Linked DNA regions of Homo sapiens. The protein of the gene in region 1 purifies or fractionates together with the protein of each later gene. This does not show direct contact. Each region holds a gene or a part of one and is shown on either strand. Other genes may lie near its edges.

Evidence for each region.
Region 2: the proteins of SRSF7 (region 1) and SON purify together in Homo sapiens (affinity purification with mass spectrometry; 2 studies listed by BioGRID and IntAct, with this or other methods). This does not show direct contact.

What each region holds. Positions count from the first base shown.
Region 1 is NC_000002.12:38,742,942-38,748,517, reverse strand, and holds the end of SRSF7 (serine/arginine-rich splicing factor 7), read left to right. Parts: intron 1-360; coding exon 361-471; intron 472-1,770; coding exon 1,771-1,824; intron 1,825-2,338; coding exon 2,339-2,374; intron 2,375-3,330; coding exon 3,331-3,385; 3' UTR 3,386-4,919; downstream 4,920-5,576.
Region 2 is NC_000021.9:33,573,778-33,578,034, reverse strand, and holds the end of SON (protein SON), read right to left. Parts: intron 2,440-4,257; coding exon 2,368-2,439; intron 2,258-2,367; coding exon 2,142-2,257; intron 1,671-2,141; coding exon 1,611-1,670; 3' UTR 554-1,610; downstream 1-553. UniProt on the Homo sapiens protein: RNA-binding protein that acts as a mRNA splicing cofactor by promoting efficient splicing of transcripts that possess weak splice sites.

The DNA.
Region 1 (5,576 bases):
CAGAAAAAGCTCATTATTTTTTTTGGAGACAGGGTCTTGCTCTGTCACCCGGGCTGGAGTACAGGGGCATAACCACGACTCACTGCTGCCTTGATGATCTCTTGGGTTTAAGCAGTTCTCCTACCTCAGCCTCCCGAGTAGCTGGGACTGTAGGCACTGCCACCATACCCAGCTAATTTTTATTTTTGTAGAAATGGTCTTGCACTGTTTCCCAGGCTGGTCTCAAGCTCCTGGGCTCAAACGATCCTCCCGCAGTGCTGGGATTATGGGCATGAGCCACTGCACCGTTCCCCAGTTGAAGTCTTAACAGGCCAAAAAAAAAAAAAACTGTGGAGATGGACTTAAAGTTCTTTATTTTAGGTCAAGGTCAGCATCTCCTCGACGATCAAGATCTATCTCTCTTCGTAGATCAAGATCAGCTTCACTCAGAAGATCTAGGTCTGGTTCTATAAAAGGATCGAGGTATTTCCAGTATGTAACACTTTTTTTCCTTACTTGTGTTTGGATTGTTCACATCTTATCAGTAGAGTGTCTTAAGGACATAATTCAAATGGATTGCTTCAGGGAATATTTGAGATGTAAAAGTTTGGAATTTATGTGTAACTTGTAACATAAATATTAACCTAGTTTTACAGATGAAGAAAAGGGCTACTAGAGATTTTAAGGCTTGTTAGGCCGTGTGGTAGACAAGGGTCCCAAGCAATACAGTTCTACTCAACACTCTGGGTAGGCATGTTGCTATAAACTTTTCTGGCTTCAGATTGGATGATACTAGCTCTGAAAGATGGTAATTGATTTTCCCGACAAAAAGGCCTATTAGCACCAGGAAAAGAGATCAGAAGCAAGTAGAAACATTTCTCATTTTTGGAATGATGGGGTTGATTTGAGACACTGGAAAGTTGACTAGGGCAGTAGTGTGTACACAGAAATGAATGTGGATTTTTTTTTTTAGACCGTTTCAGACCTGAAAAAACTAAAGAACCAGAGCTTTACTATTTGTAGAAGGCCTTAAAAGGAGATAGAATGGAAAAAATTGTAAAATAAGTATTGCAACATGTAATTAACAATATTGTTATCTGTACCAACGATAAAACCGTGGTACGGAATGCTACTGGGAGTTAAATTGCTGTTTAATAGCACAAAACCTTTAAATGCAGGAATTCTGAATCTTGTGGTCTATTTGAGAAAGCTATGAACCATCTCTTTAGATAAATTTAAAAGATAGATATGTCAGTCTGATTTGGTTTGTCTGACAGATTGATGGCTCTCAAACATAACTTGATCCAGGAATAAAGCCTTACAAATGGGGGGCGGCTTTCTTTTCGTCTGGCCTTATCACCTGAATTAGTCTCAGTTCAGGGGTCTGGTTATTTTCATCCTGCCTTAGCCTCCTGAGTAGCTGGGACTGCCATTGTGTACCACAGTGCCCAGCTGAGGGATCTGTGCCTTAAGTGAGGTTAGTTTTGCTTCCTTCATACCAGTCTCATCAAATGAAAACCATGTATTTCCCTTGGATATTACACAGTGTTTGAGAATGTTATACCTGTACAGAAACTAACCAATTGAGTGATAGAAACAAGTAATTGAAATGGGGGTTCCTTATGTCTGGTAACACTTTGTTTGACAGTGTGTTAGACAGAATAAGGCAAGTGTTGCATCTTGTTTAGTTTTAGCTTCTTTATGCCTGACCAACCTAATACAGTGTTGAGTAGTTAAGGAAATTCCTTTGGACTGATTGATATAATTGTGTTTTTCACTTTTTTTATTAAGATCCCCGTCGAGGTCAAGATCAAGATCCAGGTCTATTTCACGACCAAGAAGCAGGTAGGGTAAAAATTTGATTATGCTTTTCTAGTTATATGGCACCAATATCCAAAGAGTTCAAAGTGTTTTTAATTGTTGAAATTTTAAGTGTTAACTCTAAACTTAGGTTTTAGTGGGAACACAGTACCTTATTTGTGTATGTCCTATTTATTACTGGCTGACTTTCCCTGAACAAGGGAATGTAAAACTATAGTGAGAAAGAAGCTTATGACTTGGGGGATTATATTAAAGAGGCCCTTGTTAGAACTGATAGGTGCATGGAGAAGCATCCTGAAATCGATGTGCTTAAAGCAGAATGTAAAAGATTAATCATGATGTAGTAATTGAGTCATTTTTTGAAAAACAGTTGTTGAAAGATTGGCTTTTGTTAGCAACAACTGGTAGGATGTTTTTCAGTTTAAGTGCAGTCTGACATTTTAAGCTTAGGACATTTGGGGGTTTTACGGTATTGGTGACTACAAGAAAGGGATTGGTTAGTACTCTTTCTTTAATAGAATTTCTCATGTTTTGACAGCCGATCAAAGTCCAGATCTCCATCTCCAAAAAGAAGGTAAGCTAAATGTTTTGTTGCCAAATCTTGCCTGTCAAGTGTGGCCTCTGCAGAATTTGTTTGCTTACTGCTTTGCAGTCTTTGAGCTCTTTGGAGAATTGGTGCTATATAGATTAAAATACTATGCTAAGTTTCTGAAATACTTTTTTTTTTTGATTCAGTAACATTAGTTTATACTTTTGCTGGAAATACTTAGTCATAAAATGTTAGGGTGATTATTAAGATGTGATTGGTCCTGTGAGTACTTGGTAGAAATTTTGGTAAGATAGATGCCTTTTCCCCACATGTACAATAGATACAAAGTGTGGAGAAAAGTCTTGGAAATAGTTACCTGCCTAGTGCTTCTTTATGACCAGAAAACTTCAAATAGTTGTCATATTTATCTAGTGCTTCTTAATGACCAGAAGACTTCAAATAGTTGTCATATTTAACTGCAGGTTGACCTTGCAATTTTGACAAGGAGGATAGCCTAATTTTTTTTTTTTTCTGGGATGGAGTTTTCGCTCTGTCCCCAGGCTTGGAGTGCAGTGGCTCAATCTTGGCTCACTGCAGCCTCCGATTCCCGGGTTCAAGCAATTATCCTGTCTCAGCCTCTTGAGCAGTTGGGATTACAGGCACCCACCGCCAAGCCTGGCTAATTTTTTGTATTTCTAGTAGAGACGGAGTTTCACCATGTTGGCGAGGTTGGTCTTAAACTCCTGATCTTAGGTGATCACCTGCCTCGGCCTCTCCCAAAGTGCTGGGGTTACAGGCGTGAGCCACCGTGCCTGGCCAGGGTAGCCTAATCTTAAGCCAGGGACAAAAGATGAATATATGTAAGTTTCATGTCATTTTTAGGTCTTTGCTATAGGAAATTAGTACCTTAGGCCACCTTTGAAGTTATTGAAAGTTAGTACATGTACATGAGAGTTTCAATTGACACTAATTGGATCCAAACCTAATGTTTTTCTTTTTAGTCGTTCCCCATCAGGAAGTCCTCGCAGAAGTGCAAGTCCTGAAAGAATGGACTGAAGCTCTCAAGTTCACCCTTTAGGGAAAAGTTATTTTGTTTACATTATTATAAGGGATTTGTGATGTCTGTAAAGTGTAACCTAGGAAAGATAATTCAACCATCTAATCAAAATGGATCTGGATTACTATGTAAATTCACAGCAGTAAGATAATATAAATTTTGTTGAATGTATTAACATCATATGGTCTGAAAATGTGGGTTTTTATTTGGCACATTTAAATAAAATGTTTCTAACTAGATTTTTGATTTGTGTTCAATATTAACACTTCTTAATTTGATATATTTGAGAGTCAGACATTATAATTGTTAACCTTATTCATACATACCTACATTCAGAATTGAAAGGTGTTGGTTAAGTCTTGAACATCACTATTCTATGCATAAAACTTGGCCAGGATCTTAAGGGACTTTGAAAATTCCATCTTACCCTTGTAGCTCTGGGTAAGATGACCTGAGTCCCTTATGATACAGCCTGAATGCATCATGACAGATCCTTAAGTTAGCTAATCCGTTTGAAGTTGGTGTTAGTAGGTATTGTATGATCAGTGGTGAAGCAAGTAGGACCACTGATGTGTCTAAATGAGCATGACAGGAACTAAACGAAACTGATTAAATGTATGAGAAATAGAAACATTTCTGGATGATCTTTATACTAATTGCAGCTTTCAGGCTACTAGGTGGCATAGTGTTAATTAGGACTCCCCAAGATATGGGGAGTTCTACTCTCAATGGTCTTGTTTCTTTGCTTTCTACATTAGTTAACCAGTTTTATACCAAAAAATGCATGTTTGAGGAATTGTCTGAAATTGGGACAAAACACCTTCATGTAAACCAGCTTTGCAAAATTTTCCAGCCCAGATACTCTTCATCTATTCAAATGGATTGTCTTATTCTGAGCAAAGACCTGTTGTTAATCTTCAAGCTAGGTTTTGCAGTTCCCAACCACAACATTCTTCTATTTTGCCAGGCTGGTGCAAAGTAATTAAAGATGTCAATCAGAAATGTCAATGAGACTAAAGTGGTTTTGTAAATCTCAGCTATATTTAGCAACACTCCATGTAGCTAATATTTTTTGGTAGCATCTGGTAGACCTTAGAATGTTACATAGCCAGTAGGTTCTTTATTCAAATTTTAAGTATCTTAAGAATAGTAGGGCAGTAACAGTTACTTTTGAGAGTTTTCTGGTCAAGCTTTTACCAGGCATTCTCTAGCCTTGGTACAAAAAAAAAAAAACCTGCTGGTTGCGCAGATACCTAGGCTTGTCCATTTTATGCATTTCAGCAAAGTCATTGGATACTATTGCAACTTGGGAATACTGGTCTGCATCAAGTTTATTCGGTAGTTTGACCGCTAGTATGTTGGAAGTTATTTGGATTGTTTTTGGAATTTTGACTGGCTGAATTATGGTTGGTATAAAGTTATGTGTATAACTGGCAGGCTTATTTATCTGTTGCACTTGGTTAGCTTTAATTGTTCTGTATTATTTAAAGATAAGTTTACTCAACAATAAATCTGCAGAGATTGAACAAATAATCCTGATACTTAATTTTTGGAAGTGGGAGCTCTCAGCCAAAAGTAGGAGGCATTAATCCTGTAGCTTTAGGATGGGCAGCTAGTAGCGTCCTAGAAATGAGTATAGAAAGGATAAAAAGGTGTGGAGGAGGGGTAGGGGCAAAAATGGTTTTAAACAAATTCCAGCCTTGTGGGGAAAAGGGCTGTTTGGGCCAATACCTCTTAGGTCATGTGCAACTTGGCACCCGTTACTGATAGATGCATTTCAAAATAAGCTTTGGTGCATCCCCCCACTTGTTTTCTGTGATTGGGATTGCCAAATTGATTGTCACTGATTGGAAGTGCTGCTCCAGACTCATTCCTTCTAAACTAGCCTAGCACTGATGAGTAATCAGTCAGTTTTTATTTTTAATTTTTAAAATTTTTTTGCTTGGTGCGGTGGCTCGCGCCTGTAATCCCCCAGCTACTTGGGAGTCTGAGGCGGGAGAATCACTTGAACCTGATTGAATAGAGGTTGCAGTGAGCTGAGATTGCGCCACTGTACTCCAGCCTGGGCGACAGAAAGACTCTGTCTCAAAAAAAAAAAATTAGTGTTGCAGTGAATGTACTGTACTGTACGTCATTGACAGGTGATGTACAGTACAGTACATCATTGATAGGTGAACATGCTTACCTAGA
Region 2 (4,257 bases), on another chromosome or scaffold:
GGAAATCACATAGCAGTTACCCCATGGCATTGTGACTAATGGCATCAGGGCAAAAATATGTTACTTTACGATTTACCTGTTAGCAGGTTCTTGTTTCATAAAGGTAGAAAATAAATACAGACAACATCTACTGAGCTAGTTGATTGGTGATGCTTCTACCTTAATATCTTTCCTACTGATTTATAATTCCTTTATTTTCACATATACTAAAACTTTTTAAATGCATGTTAATTCAGATAAAAAGGCATTTTGTATTCCACATAGAATAGTGTTAAGAATTGTGAAGTACACTGAGCTGTCACGGCAAAGTAGTATTTAATGTGCTTATAGGGGTGTGTGTGTGTGTGTGTGTGTGTGTGTGTGTGTGTGTGTGTGTGTGTGTGTGTGTGTGTGTGTGTGTGTGTGTGTGTGTGTGTGTGTGTGTGTGTGTAGGGGGGGACTGTATAATTCACATTTTTAAAATAAAAGTGCTTAAAAATCAAAAGCATTGGGTAAAGAAATAATAGTATCTAAGTATTTGTTCACTTTATAACCCAGAAAATAAAACACCACGTTTATTCCAGAGAAGTTTGTATTTGGGCCTTAAGCTTTTGAAAATAAAGTTTAGAGACATAGCATATGAATACCACTGTAATACACATGAAATATTCTATCAGACCCTAAAAATTAACATAAACTTTTAACTTTCTCATAGTCAACAAAATAGTGGCTGGTTGCCAATTTTATTAGATAAGTTGGTTACAGCATTTTAATTATCATTTTACGTCTATCTAGGTGTAGCTGAAATTCAAAATGCACATCAAAGTAAAACTATATCACAACTCAATGCCATACTAAATGTACTGGCCTCTGCAATAGAATTCTAGTCAGACTTCATTTTTTACTCCCTTCTTATGACCCAAGTGGCTTTAACAGGAATGCAGGACTTAGTGCTGATCATCACACAACATACCACTTTCTTTTTAGAACCTCTACAAAATTTTGAGGGGAGATGGTGGCATTAGCCCTGTGGAACAGATCTTGATCACCTCAATAACACTGGCCCATTATCTGTCCAGCAGAACCCATTGTGAAATAGTACAAGGTGCACAGCCCTTCACTGATTACAGGCAAGTGTTACAGTAGCCTAGCCATAAGGAAGGGGAGTTACATCATAGTACAAAATACAGTATAAAAGCGTTATTTAACATTCCACACTGAAGATTACTCTGATGCCTTCAAACAGTCGTTTGGATGTTAGCCACTTAAACAAATACATCACTAAGGTAAACAATATAAACATACCAAAACCCTGTATGGTTAAATACAATTTCCATGGTACAAAAATCAAAGCCTGGAGATGTTTTTACAGATTGCTTTTTACACAATGTCTTAAATTGCCAAATATTTACAACATTAAAGAGGAAATACATTGTGATGCAGAGTAAAATTCTGAAATGATTATTATAAAACCTCAATCTATCTACGTGAGGCACTCCTGAAGCAAGTGGCATTAGCCATGAGGTCCTTTGGTACAAGGCCCATTGCTTGAAGAACCACAGTAGCTGCTGTGGCTTTAGCATGCTTCTTATTAGGGCTGGCAAAGCTGGGCTGGTAAGCGCTTCCATTTATCAATACCTATTCAAGAAAAACATACAATTGGGTCTGGTAAGGGCTCCATTTCTCAATACCTATTCAAGAAAAACATACAATAAGAACAGCATCAAACTTTAATATCTATTAGCTTTGTATTTTTTCACTAAATGCTAGAAAAATAATTTACAAAAATATAAAACCCATACTATGTAAGTCAAATTATAATCTCAACCCGAAGAACCAAATCATTTGGGAAAGGGACTGCAAATTAGAGCAGGTCTCCAAATTGAGAAAAAGACTGACAAAAGTATTAAATTAATTCCCCACATTCAACTAGAAAATAACAATTGTATACTATATTTTACCCTTTTCCAATTTTTTAAAAAATAGGACATTGACAAGTCGTATTAAAGCACCCTTCAGTGTTTAAAAACCCCACCACTTAACTACAAATACAAACCCCCCACCCATGAACAGAATCTTAATCCTGTGATCATGTTTACCCCTCACCCTCTAAGTCATCACATTAATAAATATATATAATTAATGCAGAAATTCATATTTACCCTAAAGAGAAAATGTTTGCGATGATCAGGGCCACTATCATGGACCAATAGAAATTCAGGTGGTTGCCACCTTCTTTTATTACAGATCTCCATCAAAGCAGACACAGGATGTTTGCCTGCAGGGGGGAGAAATACCCAGTTTTAAATTATTTCCACCAACTTCTGCAACAAATAATGAATTCAAGGTGGGATTAGGGTAAGAGGAAATTCAAAAACGTGCTCTCACCTGACAGATCTTTCATTGCAGCAGAGAAGTTCCCAGACCTCTTTTGTGCTCTTTCTCCTACTGCAACAAGACCTTTAAAAAAAAATTGTTCACTAAATAAATTTCAAAGCACCACTTTAAAACAAAGATCCCTCTGTAGGAGTCTGAACCTCAAAATGTATGCCTTCAAATAAAATCAGCAGATTCCTAGTACACTCGATTTCTCTATCAATCTTCTCTTTCTTCTCTTTTACTGTTTTTCAGCATATAAATTTATATTTAATATTCATAGATCTTGGTATGAGAAATTGTAATAAATACCAAATGTAAACAGAAAACAAAAAGTTAAGTATGGCCAGGCACAGTGGCTCATGCCTGTAATCCCAGCACTTTGGGAGGCCGAGGCGGGTGGATCTCCTGAGGTCAAGAGTCTGAGACCAGCCTGGCCAACATGGTGAAACCCCGTCTCTACTAAAGAAACAAAAATTAGCCGGGCGTGGTGGTGCGCGCCTGTAATCCCAGCTACTCGGGAGGCTGGGGCAGGAGAATCGCTTGAACCTGGAAGCGAAGGTTGCAGTGAGTAAAGATCGTGCCACTGACAGCCTGGGCAACGAGCAAAACTCCATCTCAAAAAAAGAAAAAAAATAGCTTATTGCCAAGTGATTTCTGCAGATTTACTGTCTCTTAAAAAAATAAGCTTCAGTTAAGACTCTTCCAAAAAAGGTTAGGATTTTAAGCCACCAAAAAGGTGAAAACGGTTGTCTCCAAATAAAATAGGTCCCTTTTTTCCTAGCAAACTCTCCTCTCCCTTCCTAACAAATGGGAGATGTTCTCAAAATATGAACATAACCTTTCTACATAACCTCTCTCTCCATAGACTTATTACAAAGGGGATTAGCTACATTGCTAAACCCAAACACTGCTTTCCCAATTCATATACAGGTTGAGTATTCCTTATCCAAAATGCTTGGGACCAGAAGTGTGTCGGTTGATTCCAGGTTTTCAAATATTTGCATTGTATTTAGCGGTCAAGCATCCCAAATCTGAAGAGGCTGAAATCCAAAATGCACCAATGAGTATTTCCTTTGAGCATCATATCAGTATTCAAAAAGTTTTCTGTTTTAAAGCATTTCAGGTTTCCAGATGTGGGATGCTCATCCTGTATGTTACAGGAAATTTTTCAACCTTTGCTAAATAATTCCATGCTAATATAAGCTTTTCTAAACCTATCCTGGGAAATCTGTGGTTCTCTGAGAGCTTACAGTCAGGCCATGTCCCACAATTCCAAGGACAATGCTTCCTGAAATTGTACAATACTTAACATCAAAGTATTTGGTGCAGAGCTAGTTCATTTCCAAATTCATTAAGACAGTTTAACTATTGAAGTTAGCTTCAACTTACTGTTTGATTACAAAGATGAAAATAAATCCCAGTTTTACATTTGTCAGCTTTTATAAATGAGGTTTAAACAAGCTATACAAAAATCATACTGAGCTGGCAAGCCTCTCATGATTCCACTTACATTATTCCAAGGGAAGAAGTTATTTAAAAGACGCCAATTAGCTATCATCTGTGGGAATGATTAAATACTTAGCAACTACATACAAGCTACATAGAAGACACAGTGCTGCCCTGCCCAGGTATCTGAAGGTAAAAGGAAAATACAGTCAATGCTAACAGTTCCAAGATGCCTTAACACAAGGCAACAGGAAGAAGTAACATTATTGTCAGCAGCTGGTCTACTATACTCTAACCCAACTTAACTACTGAGCTTGGAAGAAAAAAGCAAACAGGGTTTATGAAATCTAGACTAAACCAGTATTGTAATAGGAAATAATGAAGATGTGCTAAAATATCTAACAAAAAATAAACTAAACTCTAGAAAAAAGGATGGTTCCTTGTCAAGAGAAA